Linked DNA regions of Homo sapiens: regions 1, 2, 3, 4, 5 and 6 are each reported to be linked to region 7. The links are microRNA targets in miRTarBase. Many come from high-throughput screens and were not tested one by one. Region 7 holds a microRNA gene; each other region holds the end of a gene's coding sequence.

The links. Region 7 holds the annotated microRNA hsa-miR-202-3p (AGAGGUAUAGGGCAUGGGAA, at 2,655-2,674, opposite strand). A microRNA usually pairs through its seed, bases 2 to 8, with sites in the 3' UTR of a target mRNA and lowers its output. Matches are read on the target gene's strand: a 7mer-m8 pairs with bases 2 to 8, a 7mer-A1 pairs with bases 2 to 7 and ends in A, and an 8mer does both.
Region 1: miRTarBase lists USP47 as a target of hsa-miR-202-3p. Seed matches in the 3' UTR shown: 7mer-A1 at 881-887.
Region 2: miRTarBase lists RAMAC as a target of hsa-miR-202-3p. Seed matches in the 3' UTR shown: 7mer-A1 at 3,054-3,060 and 7mer-m8 at 2,420-2,426.
Region 3: miRTarBase lists SOX6 as a target of hsa-miR-202-3p. Seed matches in the 3' UTR shown: 7mer-m8 at 2,620-2,626.
Region 4: miRTarBase lists SLC38A7 as a target of hsa-miR-202-3p. The part of its 3' UTR that is shown has no 7-base or 8-base seed match.
Region 5: the mRNA of NUCB2 is a reported target of hsa-miR-202-3p. Seed matches in the 3' UTR shown: 7mer-A1 at 1,346-1,352.
Region 6: the mRNA of CALU is a reported target of hsa-miR-202-3p. Seed matches in the 3' UTR shown: 8mer at 2,078-2,085.

Annotation. Positions count from the first base shown.
Region 1 is chr11:11,955,732-11,959,731 of GRCh38, forward strand. It overlaps USP47 (ubiquitin specific peptidase 47), which reads left to right. Exons shown (of 28, transcript NM_001282659.2): 28 at 270-4,000. The coding sequence ends at 444. Among named protein-coding and RNA genes, the nearest start is that of DKK3, 51 kb to the right of the region's middle.
Region 2 is chr15:82,989,274-82,993,337 of GRCh38, reverse strand. RAMAC (RNA guanine-7 methyltransferase activating subunit) reads right to left here. Exons shown (of 4, transcript NM_031452.4): 4 at 2,281-3,457. The coding sequence ends at 3,271. It also overlaps a transcript of C15orf40 not described here. Among named protein-coding and RNA genes, the nearest start is that of RAMAC, 5.1 kb to the right of the region's middle.
Region 3 is chr11:15,969,060-15,973,138 of GRCh38, reverse strand. SOX6 (SRY-box transcription factor 6) reads left to right here. Exons shown (of 16, transcript NM_001367873.1): 16 at 27-4,079. The coding sequence ends at 330. It overlaps MIR6073 (microRNA 6073), which reads left to right and starts at 3,518; the gene lies at 3,518-3,606.
Region 4 is chr16:58,663,712-58,667,788 of GRCh38, forward strand. It overlaps SLC38A7 (solute carrier family 38 member 7), which reads right to left. Exons shown (of 12, transcript NM_018231.3): 12 at 1,398-3,776. The coding sequence ends at 3,674. Among named protein-coding and RNA genes, the nearest start is that of SLC38A7, 19 kb to the right of the region's middle.
Region 5 is chr11:17,330,832-17,334,910 of GRCh38, forward strand. NUCB2 (nucleobindin 2) reads left to right here. Exons shown (of 14, transcript NM_005013.4): 13 at 71-152; 14 at 581-1,380. The coding sequence ends at 588. Among named protein-coding and RNA genes, the nearest start is that of NCR3LG1, 19 kb to the right of the region's middle.
Region 6 is chr7:128,768,408-128,772,479 of GRCh38, reverse strand. It overlaps CALU (calumenin), which reads right to left. Exons shown (of 7, transcript NM_001219.5): 7 at 1-3,417. The coding sequence ends at 3,313. Among named protein-coding and RNA genes, the nearest start is that of OPN1SW, 5.4 kb to the left of the region's middle.
Region 7 is chr10:133,244,884-133,248,962 of GRCh38, forward strand. MIR202 (microRNA 202) reads right to left here and starts at 2,737; the gene lies at 2,628-2,737. MIR202HG (MIR202 host gene) reads right to left here and starts at 3,002. Exons shown (of 2, transcript NR_108079.1): 1 at 2,908-3,002; 2 at 1,596-2,167. RefSeq lists enhancers at 1-626, 1-810, 2,379-2,893, 3,410-3,924 and a silencer at 2,174-2,293.

The DNA.
Region 1 (4,000 bases), not on the chromosome of region 7:
TGGCACAGTGCCTATTATAGATGTTCAATAATGATAGCTGTTACTACTGCTAATAACATGGAAGTTATTCTCCGCCACTTTTAGAAGTAAGCAATATGTTCCTGTGATTAACACCTTAGAAATCTGGGACATCTCAGTATATAAAATAATATTACTTCACCAGTAACAGATTTCATTATCTTGCTGAGGAGCATCATAGCATTCAAGCATACATTAATAGAGGTGGAGGGCTCTACTGGACTAATATGTGATTAATATTTTATATGTAGGGATAAAACAGAAGAATTAATGGAATTGACAGATGAGCAAAGAAATGAACTGATGAAAAAAGAAAGCAGTCGACTCCAGAAGACTGGACATCGTGTAACATACTCACCTCGTAAAGAGAAAGCACTAAAAATATATCTGGATGGAGCACCAAATAAAGATCTGACTCAAGACTGACTCTGATAGTGTAGCATTTTCCCTGGGGGAGTTTTGGTTTTAATTAGATGGTTCACTACCACTGGGTAGTGCCATTTTGGCCGGACATGGTTGGGGTAACCCAGTGACACCAGCACTGATTGGACTGCCCTACACCAATCAGAAGCTCAGTGCCCAATGGGCCACTGTTTTGACTCGGAATCATGTTGTGCACTATAGTCAAATGTACTGTAAAGTGAAAAGGGATGTGCAAAAAAATAAAAAAAAACAACAAAAAAAGCTAACCTTCTATTAGAAAAGGGGACAGGGGAATGAGTAAACTTCTTTTATTGCGGACAAATGTGCACATAGCCGCTAGTAAAACTAGCCTCAAACAGGATGCTCATAGCTTAATAATAAAAGCTGTGCAAAGGCCATGAATGAATGAATTTTCTGTTTATTTCACTGATGCACACATTACCTCATTGACAATTCAGAAGTAAATCCAACGTGTGTTGACTCTTGGAAAGCAGCAAAAACAGGAGCTGAAGAAAAGAAATTCTTGGAACCAGCCGTAACCCAGTAAGGAATTGTGAAGTTGTGTTTTTATTTTGTTTCATTTTTTGCAGAGTATTAAGAACATTATTCTGGAACATCAGAACGTTTCCCTTAGACCGATCCCAGCAGGTGGCAGCTCAGATTGCTGCAGTGTTGTAATTATAACTGATTGTACTTAAGTTATGGATGTAGAGAATATGTTTCATTCATTTATTCAGCATGTAAATAAAATTGATCCTGTTGAGTTATCATAATTGCAGTTCAACTATCTGCCATGATTATTCTTTTCACGTATCATTCATTCTGTACATTTGTGTACATTGAGAAGTATAGCAATCTATGTAAATGTAATCCTCAGTGAGGTTCCTCAGTGCTAGGTCCCATAGGATTGTCGTTGCCCTTGTTAATGAGGTTTCTCTGTTCAGCGGCTTCAATTTTTTTCTCTTTGTACATCTAGTTTTGAAGATTTACTTCAAGTTTGAATCTTCTAGAATGCTTGTAAGTCCAGTTTTAATTTTTAGAGTCAATTTGTAGTTACATGTAGTTTAACTTTTGGGAAACGTCTTAACATTGTTCTGAATAAACTTGCTAATGAGGTCAGGTCATGGTACAGACTGATGCAGTCAACATGATTTCATTGCAGAGTTTATTAGTATCAGCAAGTTTTTGCTTTGCTAAATAAAAGTACTCAATGAACACAATTCTACATAAATTTTGACATACCATCTAATTTATAAAAATCAATAAAAAAGGTTTTGGTAAAACTTTTTCATGCCAGATGCTGTTTACAACAATGAACATGCCAATAAAACATTTGTTCATTCTGTTGTGTTATTTTAGTCATTAAACTTCTGTGGATGAAGAATCTGGGTTAAGAATAGATTTGTCATCTTTAAATATGACATTTTGTAATGTGTATTGGATATCTCATTTCTATGATAAAGGTATATTTACAGTAAAGTTCTCATAAGAGAAATGAAAAGCTGTGTTAATATCTAACTTTGGGGAACCCTGTCAGTATTTCAGATCCGATTTTTACCCTTTTTTTCTTATAAGAAAGATAAAATTAGAAAATACTGTTAGCAAATGTGGCTCTGCCATTTGAATATAATCACCGAGAATTCCATGTCTTAAAAGTCTCCTGGAATCCACAATGAAAAAAAAAATCTTTTCTAAGGTATTTTTCTGGCTAATTTTTATTTGAAGAAAGCTATAGCATTTAGCGAAATTTGACTGAAGTAATGTTCTGAGTTTGCATTAGTGGGATTGGTGATGTTCTCAGAAGAAAATTGGAAACACTTGTGATGAATTGTCTTTCAGATCACTTAGATTTTCTGATGTAAGAGGACAGCTGTTTGGTTCTGATACAGGCCTGCTTACTTGGGATGTAGGGTTAGTAAATGGGGTTTCTGCTTTAAAGGACTGACTTGCTATCACACAAAAGAGGCAGACTTGTAAACACAATGGGCTTTGGAGTTTGGTCTGATTGGGTTTGGTTTAGTATTCCTATGAGCGTAAATGGTAAAATTCTTCTGATACCCACTCTTTAGACTGTGCCTTCTGCTCTGTTCTTTGTTTTATGTTTAACTGCTGTTTCTAATTGCAGGTGTATTACAGATACAAATAAGAGTAAAGAAAATATATTTCATTATAGAAAAGAAAAAATTAAAAGCTTCTTGCTTTTCAGTGCCTGATAGAGTGAAAACACAAAGTTGCACTTTAATAATTTCAATAAAAGCTAATCTGTGTCAGCCTCCCTCTGCTTCAGAGAGTCAGGTGAGCATCCATAACCTAACAGGCAGAGCCCTAGCGATGTGGATCAAGTTTCCTGAGCCCGGGGGCGGTGGAGCCTCATGATCTCTTATCTTTTGAGGCTGAGGCAGGTCACATGCAACAAATTGTGACCCTGCTCCCCACAAGTCATGCAAAGGTTTTGAAGAGCTTTTACCGTGGGGCAGATGAACTTGTGTCAACCATGCACACCCTGTGAGAACCAAGTACCTGTGTTTCTAAGGCGGGCACTCAAGGTGAGGGGTGCATTCTGGCCAAAGAAACAAAAGCTGTGGTTTCAGGACCATGCCGTGTGTAGCTGATCTGTACGGGACGTGTATGTAAGGAAGAGCAATCATGATAGATAAGAACAGTGTGTGAAGCAGCCTTCACACTAGAGTGTTTGGTCATCTCTTATAATGTAAGGGAAGGTACTTTAAAATTCTGGGAAGATGCGATGAACTCATGTCCCAGTCAGAAAATAATCCAATGAAATAAGCATTGGTTGCCAGGCCACAGTTAGGAATTGTATTGTGATACATCTAGAGGCCAAGAGAGCAGGAGAGAGCTACCAACTTACACTGTGGTTTAAGCTAAATGACCGCACAGCATCATAGCATTGCAGTGTTGTTACTAAATCTGGAAGTGACCTGTGAATGTATGGAATACAATAAAGTCTTTTATTCTGGTTCATTTGCTAGTACTTCCTTTTTGATTGGATACTGTAGTTCTTCCTCTGGATTTTATTTTGTTCAGCGTCAAGGCCCTAATTTTGCAAATGTAGTCTAAACCACATTACGTGGACTAGAGGATACTCTGAATTAGCAAGTTTTTTGTTTGCTGAATAAAACTATTCCATCTTAACAATTCTGTGTAATTTTTGAAAAACATCAACATTTTGGTCACTAGTAGTCAAAATCTTATAAGGCCATATGTCCTGAAAGGCAAAACTCTGTGTATGTGCGATTTACCAGGGAGATAGTAGGACAGTTTTTATGAGGGTTTCAAAGGAGTTCATGGCCCAAATGAAGCTTGTGGCCACCTAGGTTTAGTGTACATGAAATTGGAAGATGCTTCTTGATTGTAGTTCCCATGGGGAAGAGGGAGGCTGTGATCATTTGGTTAGATACAGCATTAATTGTCACAACTTGACTTTCAGAAACAAGAATACTGCACAAACTCAAGCATGCATTGGAGCATGTGTTACTATTTAGAAAAGAGTGCAGCCATCAGTAGGTCAAGCTAGGAGGGCAAAAGAGAGTTGAGAGGA
Region 2 (4,064 bases), not on the chromosome of region 7:
GTCAACACTACGCTTTACAATTTACCAAATACTTCCCTCCCGTTGATTCAACAAATGTTTATGCAGCACCTATTGTGTCCTACTAGGGATTTAATGGTCACAACTCTATATTCTCAAGTTCTTCCTTTGATTATTTATTTTTATAATTCTGTGAGGGTGGCAGGGTGGGTATTGTCCCCATTTTTACAGCTGAGCCAATAAGCTCAGTGTTTACATGATTTTCTCACGGTCACATATGTTTTAAGCACAGAACTGGAAGCTAGGATTCCTTATACCTAATGCCATATGTTATTACAACAGACTACTTGAAATTAATTCTATTTGACACTATTTTATTTGCTCTCACTCTTAAATTATCTTTAAGCTTTTTTTCATGTTATTTTCTGTCTTATGAAGCAGAAACTGTACCTTTTATTTCTTCCTGGTTTTAAGCAGATCAGGGGCAGGGGTACAGTCTGATAGTAACTGCTGTTAAAAAACAAAAACCATAACAACATAGATTATTCATGCAGCATGCAGAATTTACTCATGTTAAAAGGTTTCCTCCCATTTTTTCAAGCACGGCTGATACTCAGGACACAAGCAGCCTAGCTGTGTTGGGTGTTAAAACATTTAAATACTGTTGGAAAACCACCTCTCTTCTGAGCTTCCTGAGAAGTACTCCTCCAGCGCTGGCCTTGGACCCATACATCTCCCTTTGTGTCAACAGCTGGCACAGCACAGAATCCTGACCTAAAGCTACAGTCAGCTATACTGTCCCAACTACTGGTCAGTGCCTGTGCTTTCTCAGGAGATGATTTTATAAATCTTTTTTTTTTTCTTTGAGAGAGTTTCGCTCTTGTTGCCCAGGCTGGAGTGCAATGGCATGGTCTCAGGTCACTGCCACCTCCACCTCCCAGGTTCAAGTGATTCTCTTAACTCAGTCTCCCGAGTAACTGGGATTACAGGCATCCGCCACCATGCCTGGCTAATTTTCGTATTTTTAATAGAGACAGGATTTCACCATATTGGCCAGGCTGGTCTCGAACTCCTCACCTGGGGTGATCTGCCCATCTCAGCCCCCCAAAGTGCTGCGATTACAACTGTGAGCCACCGTGCCCAGCCTATAAATCATTACTTTTAAGAGACAGCATCTATCTAGCCCAAACTGGAGTACAGTGCCATGATCCTAGCTCACTGTAGTCTTGAACTCTTCCCGGACTCAAGGGAGCCTCCTGCCTCAGCCTCCTGAGTAGCTAGGACTACAGGCGTGCACCACCACACCCAGCTAATTTTAAAATTTTCTGTAGAGACAGGATCTTGCTACATTGCCCAGGCTGGCCTCGAACTCCTGGCTTCAAGTGATCTTCCCGCCTCGGCCTCCCAGAGTGCTGGGATAACAGGTGTGAGCCACCATACCCAACCAGGTGATATTTTTGATAACACTTCTGCTTTCAGAGAAGATTCTGGGGTGTAGTCAGGACATTACTATCTAGACTAAATATCTGTAGTATCAAATCCTATCTTTATATAACAGCACTGGCTTCTTGCCTACTGATGTAATTAGGGAGGTTACAGGGAAAACCCTTACTATTAAAATTGTATTTGCATCTTAGTGTGACTGCCCGACTTATTAGGTCATTTCCAATAAAACAGTTACCCGAGAGGATGGCTCTTCAGGAAGGGAGAATAAAAGGGAGAGGTAGATGGAGAGCATGAAGTACCTGGAGAAGTCAACCTCGAGGGCCTAGAGTGGGGTGCTAAGAGAGAAGGCATTAAAAATAGGTTTACGAAGATGCCCCCGTTTTTTTTATGAGATGAAGTCTTGCTCTGTTGCCCAGGCTGGAGTGCAGTGGCACGATCTTGGCTCACTGCAACTTCCGCCTCTGGGCTTCAAACAATTGTCCTGCCTCAGCCTCCCGAGTAGCTGGGATTACAGGCATGTGCCACCACACCCGGCTAATTTTTGTATTTTTAGTAGAGACGGGGTCTCATCATGTTGGTCAGGCTGGTCTCGAACTCCTGACCCCAAGTGATCCGCCCACAGCCTCCCAAAGTGCTGGGACTACAGGCATGAGCCACCATGCCTGGCTGGAAGACGCCTTTTTAAATATATATATTTTTTTGTCACTCTAATAAAGTCAGGAAGGTGCCTGTTAATTCCTTTGACCTATGTTGAAATTTGCACTCTTAATGTTACTGTTAAACCAAATAAGCCCTTTTCAACAGATATGAAGGACAGCATAAAAAAACCCAAAAATCTCATTTCACCATATTAATAAATGGGCTAACTGCCAGAACTTGGGAGTGAAGATGCTTAAATATTTTAAAATTTTTATTTGAATGAAATCATTGTAATAATCATTAAAGTGATTTGAAATAGAATGATCTCTGTGAAAGGAAGTTTATAGCATCACTATTTATAGGAGAGAAAGCAGCAGAGGTATGCATCTGGAAGTGAATATAACATTGTAAAATCAGCCCACATTAAATACCAAAAAAGTAAGAACCATCAAAATGCAGCATTATTTACAGGATTAAAAAGTGTGAACAGTACAGAGTTAAACTTTCTTATGTGTGAATTTTGACCTGCTATGTTGTTAGCAAAAAGCTTTAGTGTTTGTATAAAATGATGTGTACCCTTATCCCAACCACCACCAGATCAAGACACAAACTGACAATGATTCCTTCCTTATTTTACAGCTTTATTACTGATTTCCCTCTAAAAAGAGACTCAAGTGTGGAGCTGACTCATCTATAGATTAAGGAATCACAAAGTACCATAGTCACTTAACAAATGCAAAAAAAAAAAAAAGCAATTGTTTTACCTTTCAACTGCTGATGTTATGTACAATCTATCACAAAAAGCATAGCTGTGCATTCATGAGCTGATTATATCAACCTCTAGAATTTTAGAAACGAGCACATCTAAGCATATGGATACTCTCTTACCTTACAAAGTAAAAGCATTTTCTATTTTAAAATTTTTATTTCTGTGTAAAACAAAGAATTCCTAGAGGTCAAATAATATACCAAACTTAAAGCACTATTAAGTCATGAAACAAAGAAGATTCTGAGGTAGAAGTCAAGCAATATAATCCACAGTTTCAGGTATTCCCAGCAACCATCGCATTTCGCAAGTAAGATCTATTTTTTTTAAAGTCTCAACTTCCAAAAAATCAATAATCCATTCTGTAAAATCAGATGTAAAACTATGACCAACAGAAGACACCCAAACTTTTCTCATGGTAACAGAGTAAATGCTTTTACTAAAAGCTGCCAACATTTCTATCAGTAGTAACCGTAAGGAGGCCGCTGGTTGTAACCATAATGTCCATATTGCTGGGGATAGTAAGGTTCTTGTCTGTGTTGCGGGTAGTTGTTACCCCAGGATCGTCCATGCCACTGATTGGATCGATTGTCACTTGGCCACCCCCATCTGTTGTCCCTGCCTCTGAACTGTCTGTTGTCTTGCAACCTACAACAATAAAACAAAAAAGATCTTTAAACTTCCCTTGTTAAAAAAAACATATGACAAACCCATAGCAGTGCTTCTGGTTTCTCATTCTAATACACAATAAATAAGACTAAAAAACATTTTTCACAATAGAATGTTATAGTGCCAGTTATTCAAAACTTTCCTAAGATTGAAATCATTCTTCCAGTATTATACTAGGTACACTTTACAGAGACATAGGCAGACTATATAACCAATAGAATAGTTCCAAATTAAAGTGAAATCTATTCAATTGTACAAAAATGGTATGGTAATTTATTCCTTTGACTATTTTGAATTATTAAGTAAAAGTAACTTCCATTTGTAAACTTCTTCCTAAAGTAAAATCGAAACAATGTTTTCTTTATGGAATTGAACAAGCTGTAGAAAACTCTAGGTTTTTAAAGTAGATTTGCATTGAAAATATTAGTCTACAGAAAAAACATCTAAAAACAAAAAAACACACGCACTTGAACAGCAAGGAAAAAATACATGGTGCTGAAAAAATATTAAAGCAAATATTTATCAGAAATGATGTACCAGGTACTGTTATTAGGTACTAGGTATGCCATACCAAAAACACTGGTCC
Region 3 (4,079 bases), not on the chromosome of region 7:
TGATTTTGTTTCTTGAATCTATATAGGCAACAGCCTCAGATTCCAATCACCACAGGAACAGGTGTTGTGTATCCTGGTGCTATCACTATGGCAACTACCACACCATCGCCTCAGATGACATCTGACTGCTCTAGCACCTCGGCCAGCCCGGAGCCCAGCCTCCCGGTCATCCAGAGCACTTATGGTATGAAGACAGATGGCGGAAGCCTAGCTGGAAATGAAATGATCAATGGAGAGGATGAAATGGAAATGTATGATGACTATGAAGATGACCCCAAATCAGACTATAGCAGTGAAAATGAAGCCCCGGAGGCTGTCAGTGCCAACTGAGGAGTTTTTGTTTGCTGAATTAAAGTACTCTGACATTTCACCCCCCTCCCCAACAAAGAGTTATTAAAGAGCCCGCATGCATTTGTGGCTCCACAATTACATCAGCAGAATGGTCTTAATTGTTTCGTAAAGTGTGAGACAGATTAAGTTTTCCCTGATTTTTCATGAACTTGAGTTTTTTGTTGTTATTGTTATTGTTGTTGTTGTTGTTTTTTTAATTTAGGTGAAGACATATTAAATATGAGACACCAGGACTTGAAACTTATCTCAACCCGTAGATGTCTTACAAGTCTTATATTTTTGTCTTACTTTTTTTTTCTTTTGGATGTTGATAAAGGTTTAAGTTACTGTTTTAGATGGGGTTAAACATTCTCACTCAGGTATGCTGTGCCGGCCTACAGGTTGTGAATGTGTTTTTATTCTGAATTATTTTAGAAAACAACTGAGGATTTCATATTGTGAAACAGAACAAGTCCACGGCGTGTGCAGCTGCATGTAGAGCATATTCAAAAGGCCTCGGAATTCCAATTTTCCATTTGTAGAGTTAAACTTTGAATGTGCCAAACTTTTTCGTAACTTTTGAATCTTAATATTTTGAAAGTCTTAAAGGAGACACTGCAAAGTCTTAGACAATCTTTGGCATCTTAAAATAAAATAGCAAACCAACATTTTTTTTTCCAGAAAATGGTAAGGTACTCAGGAATCTGGAGACAAGATATTGTAAGGAATGAACAAGGTTGCCACAGTGCATGGACCCAATTGTGTTTGCCTGTTGACGTGCCATCAGTGCGTGATGTGGTATGACATACACACACCAGAGCAACCGCCACACCAGATATCGACAGAGTGGTCTTCTCTGCCTGAGACCACCTCTCACTACATCCATTATCCCTTTGCCTTTAACCCTGACATTCAGTCTTAACACATTTTATCTTAAATAATTTATTCATTCCAGAATGTCAAGGGTCCACTTGCTATTTATTTTTTTTCAATTGTTGGTGGCATTAATTTAATAATTCTTGTTTTTCACCTTCCTTCCCCGAAGAACTTTTCCGTCCTTTTCACCTCCTTCTCCTGTGTACATAGTGATTTTATGTCCCCAGAACGCCTGGAAGCATTTCTGAAACCAAGATATTATTAAAAACCTATTATTGTTTTTAATCATGAGTATGTATCTGGCTGCAGGGCTGTGTATTGGGATATAGGTATATAGTCTTACACTTAAACAGGTATGCCCCTGAGGTTCACTGTGACCTCAAGTCTTTTGCCAGAATTTTCCCCTAATTCAGTTCACAAGTGGTAGGGTCTGCATCAGTGGCATTTCCCCCTGAATTCCATTCAGCAGCAAGGTTCAACAGTGGTGACTGCCAGGCAGGAGAGTCCTGCGGCCAAACCTGAAGCCCAAGGCTCGTGGGCCATGCAGGAATCTCAGTGAAGCTGTCATGGGCTGGCACCTTTACACTGAGTTGCCTTGTCCCAGCTGGCACATCTAGGGAGTTCATTGCAAAATCCCCAGGATGCAAAAAGCCACATGACAGCCTCAGAGCAAAGATGGTGGCAAATAGTCATGATACATCTAGAGAATGAAAGAAAACTGTAAGGGAGGAGAAGGAGGGGAATACATTCCCTATATGGGATGTTCCTACTGTTAACTCTGGGGAACAGATAGCTCCGGGGGCAGCAGATGAGTTCCTCTGGCTGACTCTATCTGTAGCCACATGGGGACCTGCCTACGTGTGAACAAAATGAACTGCACTTATCACACAAGGATTTCTTTGAAGACATGCTACTGGGGTGGGAAGCAGTGAGGTTTTATTCCCCATCTCCTAACTACAGGGAGCTCTGCCATGTCATTTTGGCCTTCCTGAAACTAGGACAGGTTGTCTATCGGGGGGCTTCCCCCAGAGAGGTTTAGTGGGAGAATGTCAGTGAATGGGATAGTTCACCTCATGGGACAACCCAGAATCTGATCACCAGGACATAGGAATGGCCCCATCAGATTTCTTGAGCCATTTTGTCACTTGGAAGAAAATAGTGTACCTTTGTATTTATTTAAGAGTGCTCAAGGCCTAATAGCAATAAACAGGTCTAGCCAAGAAATTACAAGCTATTCTGTTAGCTGGGAGTGCTCTCTATAAGCTGATTAAGGTACTGATAGGAACTCTTTGTTATTCATGTTGGTTGGGGATTAGAAATTTGTTTTTGTACATTTATTTCAAATGAGGAGGAGGTCATTTTTTCTCTCAAAAAATGAGTATTTATTATTGTCTTACTGATTTCTTTGATTATATACCTCTCCTCCTCAGTTCACTCTTGTTTTTTTTCTTTCTCTTTGGCTTTTGCTTTTGCTCTCTCTCACTTCTTTCTTATTTTGTTGCATTGGTAGAGTGTTGTATGGCTAGCATTGTATTGTATGTAATTAATTTTGCACAAAAGCAAACATTTAGCATAGTAGGTTAATTTTGTTTGTTTTTATGACCATGCCAAAATAATATTCTGGGCTGGTGGAGAACAAAGGACTGTTCTTTAGGACTGAAACTTGATTTTGCTCATAGTAAGTAAAAAAAAACAAAAAACACACACACTCACAGATGTTGTTTCGTAAGTGTTATAAGCACTGGATATAAATGGTATTTTTTATCACTTCTGACTAATGTGAAACTGTTGTACGAAAACTACATGAACAAAAGTCATCTGTTTCGACTCGTGTGGGCTTGCCTCACAGTTGCCGGATTTGAGTCATTTTTATGTCTTGTTATTTCATTTATTTATGCAAAATACATGTGTGTATGAACACTTTGTTTTAGCTCCAGCTCTGCCTCAGTACTGGGGTTCATTTACTTTTAGCCATGTTCTTAAAAATGAAAGGCTATTCAGGAATGATCTGATTGTAAACGTCTTTTTCATTGGATCAAACAGTAATGCTGTATTTGAATCTAAATTTTGTGTATAAGCAGTTTATTTATTAGCCAAGTTTGGCTCTAAATATCCATGGAAATTAAGAATGACAATCATAGGGATCAATTCATTTTATTTTCAGTGGGGCTTAAACAAAGTTTATATGACTTTACCATCTCATTTTAGATTTTTCTAATTGTGTAAATATAACATAGAAATAGAATTTATTTTTGGTTCATGAATACTTAGTGAGATATAAGTTATGTATTTCCTTTTTGTTCTCTATCCATAGATGTTGGTCCAAACTGAAAGTTGATGAGTCACTGTGCCTCTCGGGGTAGTGAGTTATCAGCTACAGTGAGAGAGCAGTGTTTGGCCTGCAGCTGGGACAGCAAAACGTTTCACCAGGGTTCTCATGCAGTTCAGAACCCACTGTCCACAGATCCAGACATTTCCCTTTTTTCTTACAGAAAGTTGATGATTGGACATACTAAATTTCCACTACAGTTAGGAGACAGTCAGTTTGCTTTGGGAGTCTACATAAATCTTCTAAGATAGTTCTGTGACCATTTAATAGCAAGAAGCATGAATGCCACTACAAAGGCAAAAATCCACCTCTGAGATCGGCCGTTAATAAACGTCCCGTCATGTCAGTTTAGATTCAAGAATGTTAAGCAACTTTGTTTTTGCGGTGCTCCCTATTTCATAGTATCTTCAAATCAAAAATAAAAATTATCTCCATTTTGTTAAAGAACTTACAGGGTCAGGGTTCTCCTTGTCACTTAGAATTGGGACACTGCCAGGCAATCCTCTCCCAAAAAAAAAAAAAAAAAAAAATAGCCATATGGAAT
Region 4 (4,077 bases), not on the chromosome of region 7:
GGCTGTTTGCACTGGAGTACGCCTGTGGCGTAGACGCATCCTTTCCTTCCTTCTGTTGAGAGACGGTTAAACTCAACCTCGTTATTCGCTCCCTAGTCAGGCCCAAAGCCCAAAGCCACCCTACCCTTCGAGCCTTTCTGAAGTATTTCTTCCTTGCAGGGTCAGTCCCCCACTTTTACTAGGAGTTGGAGCCTGACCTTCACTTGAGTGTGGCTGGAGCGGAGAGGGGAAGTGTGGTGAGAGATGAGTTGGTTAGACTTGACCCTAAAGGCAAGAGGGAGTCATTTAAGAACCTCCCAACACACAGTCAATGTCTGGCTACCTTGGCCACTTTTCAGTTCCTGAAGTCATGTTCCTCCCAGCTCAAGGCCTTCGCACATGCAGTTTCCATTGCTTGGCAAAGTCTCCCCACCTCTCTTTACTAATTCCTACTCATCAGTCACAGGCCAGCTCAAACATCACTTCCTCCAGGAAGTCTTCCTTGACTCCCCAGACAACTTTCCAGCCCCCAGACTAACACACTGTATTTTCCTTCCTTGGCACTTAACCACAATTTGGAAGTGTATATTTGTGTCATTGCTTGCTTAGCATCAGTCTTCCCACAACTAGGCTGAGAGCAGTACTGGAGTCTGTTTTGCTGGTTTTTTTTTTTTTTTTTTTTTTTTTTAAGATAGAGTTTCACTCTTGTTGCCCAGGCTGGAGTGCAATGGCGTGATCTCGGCTCACTGTAACCTCTGCCTCCTGGGTTCAAGCAATTATCCTGTCTTAGTCTCCCAAGTAGCTAGGATTACAGGCATGCGCCGCCATGCCCAGCTAATTTTTGTATTTTTAGTAGAGACAGGGTTTCAGCATGTTGGCCAGACTTGTCTCGCACTTCTGACCTCAGGTGATCTGCCCACCCTGTTCTCCCAAAGTGCTGGGATTACAGACGTGAGCCACTACACCTGGCCTTTGCTGGTTTTCTTGCCAGCACTGAGCGTGGTGACTGGTGGCTCCATAACCAAGACAGCTGGGACCTGCTCAACGCTCGCCTCTGAAAAGATGGGGGTGGATACTCAGGAGTTTAAAGCTCTTGCCAAGATCTGAAGTCAGGGGGACAGTCTGAGACCACAAAGGCACAGGAAAGACAGTGAGGGCTTAAGTGAAGGCAGAGGTCGCAGGATTGGAGACTGCGATACATTCCTAAGTCACTGGAGAAGGATAGGTAGAATGTGGAAGAAAGCAGGGGTGGCAAGAGCCACTTGCAGGTCCCTGCTTGGTAGAGGGAGCATGGCGGTGCCATTCCGGAGATAGGGGTCAGAGACAGTGACATGCCATCTACACCTCCTACCCCAGCCCTTCTTCCTCCTGGCAGTGGCCTGGACTCTGTCCCCAGGATCAGACACAGGGGACACGGCTCAGCAGCACAAATCCCTTTTATTAACCATCTTCCCTTTCTCGAGTATACACAAGTAGAAAAGAAACAGTGAAGTACCCCGATAGGGAGGGTGGGGAGAGGATGGGAGGGGGCTCCTGAGGTTAGGACAAGAGGCCAGATTCCAGCTCCTTCTCCTGACTGGTCTGTCTCTGTGCAATGACTCCACTTACATCCCTTGACCCCCGAAACACGGCACTGGGGGACTGCAGCCCTGCTGACCAGGCTGTCCTCCTAGCCCTGTCAGGGACTGGTGCTGGCAGAGCTTGGTGCTGTGCCACAGACTGACAGAAAACAGCACAGTGGGTCTGGCCCCGGGGGCAGAGAAGATCAGGCACCAAGAGGGGATGTGAGAAAAGGCAGTTTATCCATCTGGGGACTGGACAGAGGCCCAGCCAGCCTCCAACCAGCTTCTGCTTCTTAGATCGGACTGCCCTGAGTGGCGGGCGGCTCGGCAGGGGGTCCCTCTCGTACCCTTTACAGAGGTTTTGGGGAAGAGGGGACAAGGAAATGCTAGGGGCTCCAGGTGGAGGAGGAAGTCTGATTGGTGCCTGGGATTGGCCAAAGTGAGAGGGGGCAGCTGAGGGGCTGAGGTGGTCAAAACGGGAATATAGTGGGGAGTAGGGTGGGAGGTGGGGAGATAGCCTATCTCTTCGCCCTCTCTGGGGTAACAATTCCAGTGTGACATCAATGTGGCTGGCCACTGAGGCCAGGCCTGATGGACGTGCGTTGCTGAGGAGGCTGGTAAGAGAGCCCCCACTGTCCCCAATTATGTGCGTGGGAGAGACTGAGCTACACAGTGAAGTGAGATGGGAGGTGAAGAGGTAACGGGGTGAGGGGGAAGGAAGGAGCAGACAAAATCCAGACTGGAAGGGAAACTTCCAGGCCAGTGTGGCAGGCTCAAATGCTGCCCATCAGTGACAACCCAGCTGCCTTTTTGTTTGTTTCTGTTTTTTTGAGATGAAGTTTCACTCTTGTTGCCCAAGCTGGAGTGCAATGGCACGATCTCAGCTCATTGCAGTCTCTGCCTCCTGGGTTTAAGCGGCTCTGCTGCCTCAGCCTCCCAAGTAGCTGGGATTACAGGTGCCCGCCACCATGCCCGGTTAATTTTTTGTATTTTTAGTAGAGATGGGGTTTTGCCGTGTTGGCCAGGCTGGTCTCGAACTCCTGACCTCAAGTCATCTGCCCGCCTTGGCCTCCCAAAGTGCTGGGATTACAGGCGTGAGCCACTGCGCCCAGCCCTGCCTTTTTTTTTTTTTTTTTTTTTTGTCTCTGGGTAGTCACGCTAGGGCTGGCAGGGGAGGAGGCAGAGGAAAGGCAGGAAGAAGAGAAAACATCACTGAAAAAGAAGGTGTCGGGGAGGTACACCCTGATTCTGACCAGCCCAGCCCACACAGAGGGTCTGAAAGGTTCTCAGCCTTCTCCATCACCCACCCTGCGGCCTCTGAAAAGAGGGGCCCATCTCAGACACAAAAGCAGATACTCCCAACCTTATGGGGAAAGCTAACGGAGGAATACTCACAGCACCGTGGCACGGGACGGCCCTTGGCTTCAGAGCCGGGCTGGCACCGTTTGTAAACATTAGACCTGGTGATGTCTGGGGATGGAGGAGGAGAGGGATGCCCAGCCTGGACCATCAGGTTTGATGAAAGAGACAGGGTGGGGCCCCTCAAGGCCTGGGAAATGTCTATTAGCTATGGGAAAGAGGCTGACAGGTTCATGGTGGGGGTTGCCCAGGAAGGTGTGGACAAGGTCTGAATCTACCTGACTATGCATTTGCATGACTTCAGTGCTACCGTTGGAAGTGGCCAGGCTCCTGAGGAAGCTACCACTGGCCTGGGGTAATGAGCACAACCCCTACTCAGGACAGGGTGCTCTGTGGAGGATGGTGGCCTTCTGTCCATAGTCATTCTCCAGAGGGAAGTCAGACTGGATTCTTTCTTATGAGATCTACCGACTCTCTTCACCCGTGGATTCCAGGCATGGAGAAGTTGAGAACTGGGAGAGGAGGAGGGGTCCTCTATGATGTGAGACTTCCTGCCGCCATCCACGGCACTGCCAGGACTGGGGAGCAGGAAGGGGACTGGATTTGAGCTGTCCAGAGGTGTGGGGCCTGAGTTTGCCCCAGTCCCTGGAAGAGGATGTCCGGATGTCATCCCACCAGTTGGAATGATCGTGGACTAAGAATGGCCCCATAGCTCTAAGAGATGGGTTCCTGCGACCAATGGCAAAGGCCTTGTGTTCCCTGGGAGGCAGTGGTTATGCCAAGAGATCCACAAAGATGGCGTTGGCTGTGGTCTGGCCGAAGATGAAGGCTCCCAGGGTGACCAAGAGGACTCCGTAGCTGACCAGCACCCACCAGCTGTAGAACAGAGGGTGAGAGAGGTCTGATCAGTCATCCCATCCCATGACTGCAGACTTCAATATATATAACTGTTAATTACTGTAATTATCGCACTTCTCCTGTTGGTAGAGCACTTCCTACTTCCCAAAGACTTCAATACAAAGGTAGTGTGGGGCCAGGTGTATTGTCCCTAGTCCATAGGTAAGAAGACCAAGATCTAATGGGAGTAACTGATTGTTCACATCATGCCACGATTCGAATGTAGGCATCCTGATGGAAAGATGTTCAGAAAAAAGCACGTCACATGGAATGTGGTCTA
Region 5 (4,079 bases), not on the chromosome of region 7:
GCTTTGTCAAAGGTCACACATATGATAGAAAATCAAGTTATACTTTTAACTTTCATTTTCCATTCACCAGGTCATACAGCAGATGGAACAAAAAAAATTACAACAAGGAATTCCTCCATCAGGGCCAGCTGGAGAATTGAAGTTTGAGCCACGTGTGTAATTTTGTTTGATTATTTATTTAGGAAAATAAATTATTTTATCAATTGAAATCCACATTTATTACAAATATAATTTCAAATCATTAAGATGTTATGTTATTTTTTGTGTATTTTTTGTGGTATTAGAGCAATTTAGATTATAGAAAAATGAAAATGCCTCCAAAAGTTTTATGTAGCAGCAAATTTTAAGTGCTGTATCATTTGTATAATTTGATAACCATATTTATGGTAAAATGATTTATTTCAACTTTATTTGTAATTCTTTCTAATTATATTAATCTTACCAGAGAATATGTTTTTTAAAATTGTGATCTATGATTAGCTAAGCATATTTTTTAAAACAAGTATATTTGTATATGAAGGAACATTTAGAATAAAGGAAGATACTTTTAAAATAAGAACTTTTTTCTTTTTTCCAACAGACATTTAAAGTCTGAAGTCCACCAGAACTTGGAAGAAAGCTGTTAACTCAACATCTATTTCATCTTTTTAGCTCCCTTCCTTTTTCTCTGCTCAATAAATATTTTAAAAGCATATTTGAAATAAAGGGAGATACTTTTTAAATGAAAACACTTTTTTTGGGACACAGATATTAAAGGATTGAAGTTTATCAGAACCAGGAAGAAAACAAACTCACTGTCTGCTCTCTGCTCTCACATTCACACGGCTCTTTTATTTATTTTTTTGTTCTCCTTTAATGATTTAATTAAGTGGCTTTATGCCATAATTTAGTGAAACTATTAGGAACTATTTAAGTGAGAAAACTCTGCCTCTTGCTTTTAAATTAGATTGCTCTCACTTACTCGTAAACATAGGTATTCTTTTATGGGTGCTTATCATTCCTTCTTTCAATAAATGTCTGTTTGATATTAACAATTCTGGAAAGGCCACAGTATTTCCCTGTGTTTCCTGGTAACGTTTTTCTAGTTTTGGCAACCTCAACTGCTAGAAATTCTTCACCTGAATCACTTTTGCTACCACTTCAGGTCATTTTTCATTCTTTTTTATTTTGCTCTATACTTTATCATTTAAGATTAGGTTATGTTACATATAACAGAAAAAACAAAGATAACAGTGGTTTAAACTAAATAGGAGTTTTTCTTCTTACATAAGTCTAGAAGTAGGTGGTGTCCAGGTTCCTATCTTTCTGCTCTGCTATCCTCAGTGCATGATTTTTATCCTCAGATTACCTCACTCTCACTGTTCAAGTTTGCTCCTGGAGGCAGTGGGGAAGGCAAGAAAACTGGACTTTCTCTGCTTGAGTTAGCTTCCCTGAGGCCATTTTCCAGAACCAGCAGCACCTGAACTTATGTTTCGACCAGAACTGGGTCACACTGATGGCCACACCTAGCTGCTAGGGAGGCTGAGAAGTCAATGTGGCAATGTGACCAGCTAAAAGTTGGATTCTTTTACTAAGGAAGAAGGGAAGAGGGAATGTTTGGTAGGCAACTTTGGATTTTAAACTCAGCCAGCCTTGTTGGCTACCTAAATTCTGTGTACCTTCTTCTTCCGAGAGAGAAAACACTCACCCCTCTCTCCCTGAAGAGAAACCACCAGAAATCCAGCCCATTATTGCATACTAGATGAAAGACCATGCTATCTGGAGACAGTCCCCTCCATCATGTTAGGGTGTGGCTCCTTGTGTTCTGGCCACCTACAAACTGAAAGACAAGTTTTCTGCCCTGAGAGCACCAGATGCATAATGCAAAGGTGCAGGAAAACTGACCTTTTAAATTTTTTAGAGACAGGGTCTTACTCTGTTGTCCAGTCTAGAGTACAGTGGTGTGATCATAGCTTACTGCAGCCTTGAACTTCTGGGCTCAAGTGATCCTTCCACCTCAGTCCCCCTAGTAGCTAGGACTACAGGCACATGCCACGAACGCCTGGCTAAACATTTTTTTTTGTAGAGATGGAGTATTGCTATGTTGCTCAGGCTGGTCTTAAACTCCTGGTCTCAAGCAATCTTCTCACCTCAGCCTCCCAAAGCACTGGGATCACTGGTGTGAGCCACCATGCCCAAGATCCCTAAAATTGACCTTTTAGAAAAAGGGAGAAATAGAAATATAGTGGCCACTGATCCATAGCAATTTGAAAGTACCACTTGGCAAAAATAATTAAATCTCTCTGCTATAGTTCATGAATATATTCCTTGGTTTGCCTATCAGGCAACCCCTGATTCACCTTTCTGAGAGGAATTCCTTTACCTAATGTCCTCAGGGGGCCTTGGTTTTACTTTCTTGGAGGTTTTTATTGTACATTAATTTTCAGACACAATCTGAATGGGCATTGGAAAGTATACCCTTCTTGGAGGCTGGGCAGCCTTAGCAGTTTACTTCCTATAATTGTGAGTCTGGGGGCAGGCTTGGGAATTAGAGTATAGATCCGTAACAGCTACAGTCTATTGCAGGCCAGGTTTGGGTTTTTGTTGTTGTTTTGTTCTGTTTCTTGGCCAAGTGGATTCCTAAAACTTTAGTAAGTTTCTGGTCTGTTGTCTTCAGTCATTTACATGGACAGTATTAACCAAGGTAAAATACATTGTTTTTAACAAAGAACCTCATCATTTACTTGCTGGCCTCTGTGTGCTCTCCATCCCCTTTGTTCTTACAGGAATGGTACCTCCTTGAGATCCTTTGAGACTGTAGGCTTGCATGGAATGGCAACAGTCTTAATCTGATCTCTTCCCCTAGGATGGCTCCTATTATTTGGCAGAAAATTCTTAAGGGAAGGTTCTTAAAAAAGGTTGAGAAAGTTTTAGTAGCTCCCTCAGAGCCTTTACTTATAAATGTTTCAGTTTGGAGTACAGTTTTCAATTCTTCAGGGCTCCAGATTTGGGACTTGGTCAATTTATATGGTAGACAAAGAGCAATTCTCTCAGCAAAGCTATTTTTCCCTTGCGTCACTGCAGACTTGTTAATCTTAGTCCAAGTCACATATCTCTTGTAGGGCTTTGCTGAAAAGAGGCAAGAAGCAGCCAACACATGCTAGCACTCTGAAGTTCTACCACCTTCGTCTCTGTGGCAGGAAGTCTCAACCTCACCTTGACTTCTGTTGGCAAGAAGTCTCACTGCCCAAAGCCCTACCTCCTCAACTAAGCCAACCCCAGATTTAGGGCCTTCGACTTGCTGTGCTTTACTTCTAGCTGCCAAATTCTGTATAGGTCAAGATTCTTGGCTGTAAGCAATGAAATCTTCTTTAGCTATTAAACAGAAGGGAATTGATGAATGAGTATATATAGGTCACAGAATCAATGGGAGGGTTGAAGAAACAGATCTAGGCTGAGCTTCTAGGAATTATGTCACAAGAGTAGGCTGCTGAAAGAGCTGCTGCTTTTAGAACAATCAAGAAGCTGCCTGCTGGATTAGGAAGCTGCCTGCTGAACAGTTGCCAGTTCCAGAGCCACACCACCTCTGCCATGCTTTATGCCAGCAAAAATAGATACATCTCTTCCTGCCTCTGTCCCCACGTTACTTGGCTCTGAGTAAAAGTCTCAAGTGAGTGAATCTGATGGACTGGACCAATCATATCTGAAACCCTAGCTGCAAAGGAGGTTGGGAAATATAATGTTCAACTTTCCTACCTCTGTGTGACAGGAATGCATGTTAAAAGCTACCCTAGGCCGGGCATGGTGGCTCACGCCTATAATCCCAGCACTTTGGGAAGCCAAGGTGAGTGGATCACCTGAGGTTAGGAGTTCCAGACCAGCCTGGCCAACATGGTGAAACCCCATCTCTACTAAAAATACAAAAATTAGCTGGGTGTGATGGTGCACACCTATAGTCCCAGCTACTCAAGAGGCTGGGGCAGGAGAATTGCTTGAGCCTGGGAGGTGGAGGTTGCAGTGAGCTGAAATCATGCCACTGCAATCCAGCCTGAGCCACAGAGCAAGGCTCTATCTCAAAAAAAAAAAAAAAAGGCTACCCT
Region 6 (4,072 bases), not on the chromosome of region 7:
TATTGTCTCCGTCAGAAACCAAACTACTAAAAACACAAAAAAGATGGTAAAAGGAGTGATGGCAGTTTGGGGAGTCAATTTTTCATTTTCTTACTATTGCCTTCTTGCCTACAAAGCTACTGTTTCCACTGGTCTATTTCAGACCACCCAAAGGCCATTTCAACAATCATCAGTTTCTACTCCTAAGTGGCACCATTCACAGCACTTGGAGAACTGATTTCTACATACAAGGCAACCAAAAAGGAATATGCTTTAAGTTTTCAGTGTATGGATACTTTCCTTTTTAGTAACTTTTTTTTTTTTTCCTGCTGGGGATCCATTCTGAGATGATATATGCTGAATTAGAACAAACTTAAGAAAACACTTTAGAAATGGGAGAGACATAAAGAAAAAACAAAACAAAACAAAAAAAAAAACAAAAAAAACTCAGTGGCCCCAAATATGAGTTTGAAAGAACTTTTGGATAACTGCTACAGCTTTGGCAGGAACAGCCATGTCCACAAGCCCCTGAGCAAGCACAAATTATTCCAGGTGCTTCCTCCCCGTTGCATTTGGCTAAACCTTTATATTTGTCTTAAACTGTGTGTTTACTAAAGTTAATAGTTTAATTCTCTCGAGGTTCTCAAAATGAATTTGCATGTTTTAATAACATTTGTAAACAATACCAAAATGTTAAACAAAATTGTTTTACCTTATGCTCTATAGATAAACGTGTGTGTACATTCAGAATCGCTTGTGTTTGGTATCAGATAATTATATAACGAGCAGCAGGTCTCTCCAGTTATACGGCCTAATGGAAGTAAAAAAGGGTTATGGCTGTGGTGAGAAGGATGCTAGAAAATACCAGAAAACAGGGAGAAAAGAATAATCATTTAGGAGAAGGCAGTGCTGTCTCTGAGTTTGGGAGAACTTCGAGGAGAGTTCCCATTCTGACATTTTAGAGCATCCATAATTCTAAGCTAGAGTTCTATTTCTTGGAAAATGAAGGTCATACATACCCCATAATGAATGTAAACAGTTTTATTTAGAAACAGATAGGTACCTGTTCGCATTGCAGAATATAAAACTTGGTTTACACTCTATAAAAAATAACCAATATCCAAATTCAAGAGAGCTAGCATTCACAGAACACACAATATGGGTGTGTAGCTACTGTTCACCAGCCTCAGGCTTGATTTAAACAAACAAACAAAAAAAAAATTTCAAAGGGATCATTCAAGATGACCGTATAATGCTTGCTGCTGTCTTTGCAGATTAAGGTTTGCTTTTCAAGTGCATGATTTTAACATAAGGCCTGGGCTCTCTGCACCTAGTGAGGTGTGAGGCTCTCTTGCCACACAGTTCACACTCTCACTTAACTAAGCCAGAGTTGGTGGCATTATTAAATTATCACTGGTCTTCTTAATAGTAAAAATGGGGAACCCAGAGGGCAGGAAATTTCCATTACCCTATATTGGGGCTAAACTTAAAAGAGTATATCCACTATCAAGAGCTTAGTACAAAGGCTGGGGTGAAGTTACATTATACCTGGCTTTTTACCATACCAGGGAGCCCACCTCAACATGACTGTGGAAGACCAAAGGATATACCTAGGTTCAGATTATAATAAATCACCCAGCACCACCTGAATGTATTATCCACAAAGATATAGCAATAATAAAGGTTATATATACATATATTTATCTTGGTAACCTGAGGGCTAAAAACGTGGAATACGATAATTCTTCTCAAGAGGTCCATCTGTAAGAAAGGGACCCAAAAGGACAGTGTTTGTGTTGCATAAAATATGGGTAAAGTGGAGTTGGGAACAAAGGGTGGTTTCTTTAGCTCTTTCCACATCTCTCTTTGATAAGGACTGAAACCCTGTTGATTCATGATAAACGTTTCCTTTTTTTTTTTTTTTGGCAGCGGGGAGAGGGAAAGAGGAGGAAATGGGGTGTGATGGGTCAAAGGCAGGAAAGGTAAGCCATGGTCCTCAAACCAAAGAGCCCTCTCTGTAGGTCCTCTGATCTTTGAGTGTGAGCTCAAGCTCTCCAGTGGACACAGAAAAAGGCCTGGTAGTAAGTGGTTTGCATTGTGAGGTATGAGGATCCCTGGTAAATTCAGCAGCATGTGGTTTTTGGAAATCAGCCCACAAGATAAGAACACTGCAACCAAACTCATAACTAATACTGCTAATTTAACTATTGTCCAAAAGAGAAAGGGAAGAAGAAAAAAATCCCCACTCTACTGGGAGGTTCTAGGCTTTCCTATAAGTTATCCAAATAGTCTTTTTTTAATCTCAGGGTTTCTTAAGAGAATTCCCATTCAGTGACCATTTCTTTCGTTAAAGGCACTTTCAATGACATGATTGGAAAGGAGTGAATTTTAATTGTAGTGAAACCAAGATTAATTCCTTGGCACACCTGGGAAGAAGAGGAACCGGATGGGGGCATTTACAGTGATTTCAAAAGGCAAATAATTAAGTCTTGAGCATTTCAACAGATGCACACCCAGAAAAAAAATGTATGCCCCGAAAACACTTGTATTTTTCCTTTAGTTTTCCAGCTGTTTCTATCTATAGCTCTGCAAAGAGATCACATTCACTACTTGATTGATTTTCAAGACACTGGCCCTAACTCTTCCCACCACAGCTGTGCTTGACAAAATTAGCCAACAGTCAGTCCTACAGGGGGAAAAAGAAGAAAATCAATTTGGGCCAAGCTTTCCTAGAGCAAAGGGATCTTTCCTTGCCCAGGTAATGGCAGGTTCAGTTGCTGGACCTATAGCAACTGAATGTAATATGTGGCCCCTACTACCTATGAAATGTTGGACTTTTTGACAGGCAAGACTAAGTGTTCTCTCTCTAAATATAAATTGTGGAGCATATATTTTTTTTCTTTCCTCTCTCCTGAACATTTCTTATTGATCTCAGGCTTACAAAATTAGTTAAGTGAGAATTATTAAAATCATAAAAGGGGTTGAGAAAGAGTAAAGAGCTAATGTTTGTCTACATGTGTGAGTTGAGGATCTTGATCCTTCATATCATACTCCCAACCAGAGAAAAATACAAAAATAAACACGCCATGTTAATACATAATACAAAGTGTAAATCTACAAACACAAGTGTACTAATTAGAGTTGTTCCTCAGAAGCACGGCTTCCCTCCAGTCCCTCAGAGAGGAGGAGGAATGGGGACGGGATGGTTTTCATTACGCCTTTTCATGTCTTAAAAAGTTTGTAGTAACAGTCTCAGTAGCGCAAACAATTTCATGTGAAACCAGAAGCTGTAAAAATAAATTACTTTTGAGGAAATGAGGGTTCCTCCGTAGCTCAGAACTCATCATGCCGTACTAAGGCCTCCCCAAAATCTGTGGCCTGGCTGCCAACAAATAAGTCATACTTGTCAACGATCTCCTCCTTGGTAAGCTTGCCATCCTGAAAGTAGAGATAGCAATGAATTGAAGAAGAACATATTTCCCATTAAAAATTCAGAAACACTGTTATAGAAGAATTGGGGTTAATCAGAAGTTAAGATTCTCATTTCTACTAAATTAAGTGTGAACTACTCAGCCCTCATTCCCCCTACATACATACGAAGAGGGAAGAAAACAGCAATTACACATTCCTTGTTTTTTTTTTTTTTTTTTTTTGAGACGGAGTTTCGCTCTTGTTGCCCAGGCTGGAGTGCAATGGCGCGATCTCAGCTCACCGCAACCTCCGCCTCCCGTGTTAAAGTGATTTAAGTGATTTTTCTGCCTCAGCCTCCCGAGTAGCTGGGATTACAGGCATGCGCCACCACGCCCAGGTAATTTTGTATTTTTAGTAGAGATGGGGTTTCTCCATGTTTGTCAGGCTGGTCTTGAACACCCAATCTCAGGTGATCCGCCTGCCTTGGCCTCCCAAAGTGCTGGGATTACAGGCGTGAGCCATCGTGCCAGGCCAATTAAACATTTCTTTTATCAAGAAAGTTAAAAGTGGAAGGGTGGAAAGAATATAACACAACAACTCAATGCTAGAGATAAAGGTTTGTTTCATGAGGAGAAAACTCTCCTTTTAGAGGAAAATATGGAACATCTCCTAGATAGGGATG
Region 7 (4,079 bases):
GGCAGGGTCTCAGAGGGCTTCCTCTTGTTCCCAGGCCAGGAGGACCCTCATTCCCAGCCTGGCTGTCCACAGAAGCCACAGTGAGCCACTCCCCCATGGTGCCCCTCAGCCCCCACCTACCATTCACAGGACAACGGCCTCAGGACCGGGGGGCTGTGGCCAGGAGGCCTCCGTTTCTGGGACGCCTTCCAGCCCCGTCCTGGCCCCTGTGCTCCTTCCAATGCCCTCAGCAGGGTCTCAGTGGCTGGACCTGATACGTGGGCATGTCTTGGCAAGCCTGGACAGCCACCTTGGTGGGGTCTTGGCAGGAGCCCTGCCCATCTTCCTGGGGGAATTCATCCCTCTCCCTGCCCAGCAAGCCGCCCACCCTGCAGTACAGGTGAGGGCACACGGCCCAGCTCACCCAGCCCAGATCCCAGGGAGGGCATAGCCCTCAGAACCACAGCTCTTCTGGGGAAATGGGCACCATACTGGAGAGTGGGGCCTCTCCTTTCACAGCCCAGCAGGTGCTGTTAATTACACCGCAGCCTTGCAGGGACAGAGCTGGGCAGGGTACGAGCGCAGAGTGAGGCGGAGGGACGGAGCCAGGCGGGGTACGAGCGCAGAGTGAGGCAGAGCCTTTGGCTCCCTGGATCCAGCCGTGCCTGCATCCCCATTCTGCCGACACTGTCTGGAGTAACAGCTGCTGCTGCATGTCCGCACAGCACAGCGAGGTAATACCTGCTTTATCTGTGCAGCTTTAAAGCCCTATGTTCAGGTGTCCTGTGGAGAGTGACTCGAAGGCCTGCAAGAGACTCCCCAGCAGGGCCGACCTCCACCGTTCCCTAGGGGGCAGGGGGAGCAGCCGAGCTCGTTGGGGTGGGGGGCGTGGCTGCCCTTCCACATGTGGCCTGCGGCCCCCCGGCCGGAAGCACCCCACCCCTCTGCCTGCTGCCTGATCTTTCCCCTCGGACACCCCAGCTGCGGGCTGTGAGGGAGGTGGGAGGTGACTATCAGATGAGATTAGTGCTAGGCTTGGAGAGGAGGCGCAGCCTGGGGAGGCAGCCCCTGATAACCGGCCTGGGGGCCTCTCAGCCAGCTCATTGCTCCATTTGCTGGGCTCATTGGTGATAAAGGCTGTGGCCTTCAAAGACCTGGGCGTGGCCCTGCCGGCTGACGAGGACTCTGGCTGAAGGGTGGGGCCTCCCCGACTCCCGTTCAGGCCTCCTTTTAAGACAGCAGCCGACTGTCATTCTTTAAACAGGGCTGATGAGGGACCCCCTGTCCATTTTTCTTCAGTGGGAAGTCAAGACCGCAGTCCCACCCTGGCCATTGTGGAGGCCTGGAAGCTGCGGGGCCCCCGCCCAGGACAGACCAGTGCCCCCCACCCTCACAAGCCGTCCCTCTGGGCTCTCCCAACACTGCCGGCCGGTCCCAGGCTCTGGTCATCAGAAGGGTGGCCCCAGACCGGTGCCCAGCCCAGGCCCCCAACCGAGGCCCCAGGAGCCGTTTCATCCCCCCGTGTTTATGCATTTTTAACTAAGTTCCCCCAAGTCCACACGTGACTAATGTGACGTCCAACCACCGTGAACGAGAGGAGACCAGCACGACAGAGCTGCTTTGTCAAAATTTGTATTTATTGTCAAAACTTTACCACATCTCACACATTTAAATGAAATTAGCTCTACTGAAATTTCTGACCAGAAAATCAACTCATACCCATGATTACAAAAGTAATAAAGGTGTTAAGAAGCAACAGCCAGCCGGGCGCTGTGGCTCACGCCTGTAATCCCAGCACTTTGGGAGGCCGAGTGAGGTGGATCATGAGGTCAGGAGTTCAAGACCAGCCTAACAAGGTGAAACCCTATCTCTACTAAAAATAAAAAAATTAGCCGGGTATGGTGGCAGGCGCCTGTCGTTTCAGCTACTTGGGAGGCTGAGACAGGAAAGTCGCTTAAACCCGGGAGACAGAGGTTGTAGTGAGCCGAGATCGCGCCACTGCACTCCAGCCTGGGTGACAGAACGAGACTCCATCTCAAAAAAAAAAAAAAAAAAAAAAAGCAGCAGCAGCAAAAGTGCACAGACCCAGCGTGCACGCGTCTCCGCCACGCCTCACTCCCGTCTGCGCCTGGATCCACCGCCACCCGCTTGTATAAAAAGTGGGCCCCACACGGTGCAGCTTCGTAGTCTGCAAAGAAAATGTCCAAAGAATGAGTTGTGGATCCTCCCAGCCAGAGCCCAGATCCCAGGCACCCCGCCCCACTTCCCCCGACCACCAGGCGGCCCCAGAGCCCAGGTTGTCCCTCCCGCCACCTCCTGTAATGGGTCCACCCCCAACTCCGGTCAGACTGGTCACAGAGCACCGCCCAGCTCCAGCCCTCCTCTCTGCATCCTGGGTCCCAGCTCAGGGGCTGCAGAGATCAACCCAGGGCAGAGGCCTGGACCACGTCCTCCCCAGACACTTCCAGAACCCACACAAAAGCACACATCCACGTTTCCCTTGTTTTAGAATATTTGGCCCCTTTCTGCCCCAAGGATGTGGGGGTCAAAGCCCCGGGGCTCCCGGCCGAGGAGAAAGGAAGCAGGTGGAGTCCCAAGTCAGGAGGCAGGTGCTGCTGGAGCAGGTGCAGGTGCACTGGTGCAGGTGCCGCTGGGGAGGACCCGACCGCCCCGTTTTCCCATGCCCTATACCTCTTTAGGCCAGATCCTCAAAGAAGTATATGCATAGGAAAAAGGAACGGCGGGCGGCTCTGAGGCGGGCCGGCTCTTCAGCACTGGGAGGTGGCTGTCCTGGGGGAGGGTCCCGTGCCGGGCAGCAGGGAGAAGTCGGGACTGAGGCCTGGTGGGCACGGAGATCCTGTGGGAGTGAGGAGGGCAGAGCCAAGCCAGGGCCGAGTTCCCAGAGGCAGGCCTTGGGCCTCGTCTTACCTGTGGTCCAGCCTCCTGGGCCGCTGGCGCTGGGTAGCCCGTGAGCCTCGTGAGCCTGGGAGGAGCGGTGGAGAACTCTCTGAGCCGGGAGTTCTGCTGCTGCCGAGCGAGCTCCACATTTATGCGCAGGGGAGACCTTGGCCGCCGCTGTCACATGCAACCAGAGGGCTGCTCTGTGCCAAGGACCCCGTCGCACCCCCGCACCTGCCAGATTGGGGCACAAAGACCTGCTGTGAGAAGAGTGCTGAGCCAGGGCCCGCCGGGCGGGCGGGCGGCGAGGGCTGTGGGCCGGGGGCTGCTGGCCCGGGAGCTGGGATGGGGCCAGCCTGTCCCCCCGCCTCCTCCAACCCTTATCTCCCCACGCGCTTCTGCTTGCGTCAGGGGCCCGGAAAGCACACGTGAGCAAGAATCGCTTGTCCAGGGAAGGGGCCGACTCTCCTTCCTGGGCCTGCCCAGCTCAGCAATAAGCAGCACCTTGGGCTGCACCCGCAGCCTCCTGGCTCACAGGGACTCTCAGAACCCCCAGCCAGCGTGTCCAACACTGTCCTGGCCACTGGGAACCAGACCCCACCCCCAGGGTAGGTGGCCCTGCTTGGCCTGGGGCGGCCTCCACAGCTGGGGCTCCCTGAGGATTCACGGCATCAGGCGGACACTGGTCCAGTGAGGCCCAGAGCCTTCCCCGGGCCACAGAGCCCGCGAGCACGTGGAGAGGGGCCACGCTCTGCAGCCTTGGGGGCAAGAGTGCAGGGTCGGAGGGAGAGGGCCCCTCAGGGACAGCTGGCCAGACCCACAGCTGCCCACACAGAGCGAGACCACACAGGCAGGCAGACACCCTCTCCTAGGGCCAGGGAGCCCCCGGCCGAAGGGCCCAGGCAGGCAGCAGAACTCCTGCAGGTCTGGGGCTGTCCCTGTGTCCCAGGCTCAGGACACAAGGAAGAGGCCCAGAGGAGGCCAGGGCACAGGGCTTCCACAGGTGGCCAGGGACAGGGCTTCTGAACCCCAGCCAGCGGTCTCTCCCCAGGACGTAGGCAAGTGGAGGCTGGTGAAGGAACAAGGCTGAGGCCTCAGAGGCCTCTTCAGTGACCATGTCCTCGGGGAGACTCAACGTCGCTAGGCAGGCCCGTGCGGGCGCCTGGCCCCAGCACCTGTGATCTGTAGGGCCAGAGTCTCAG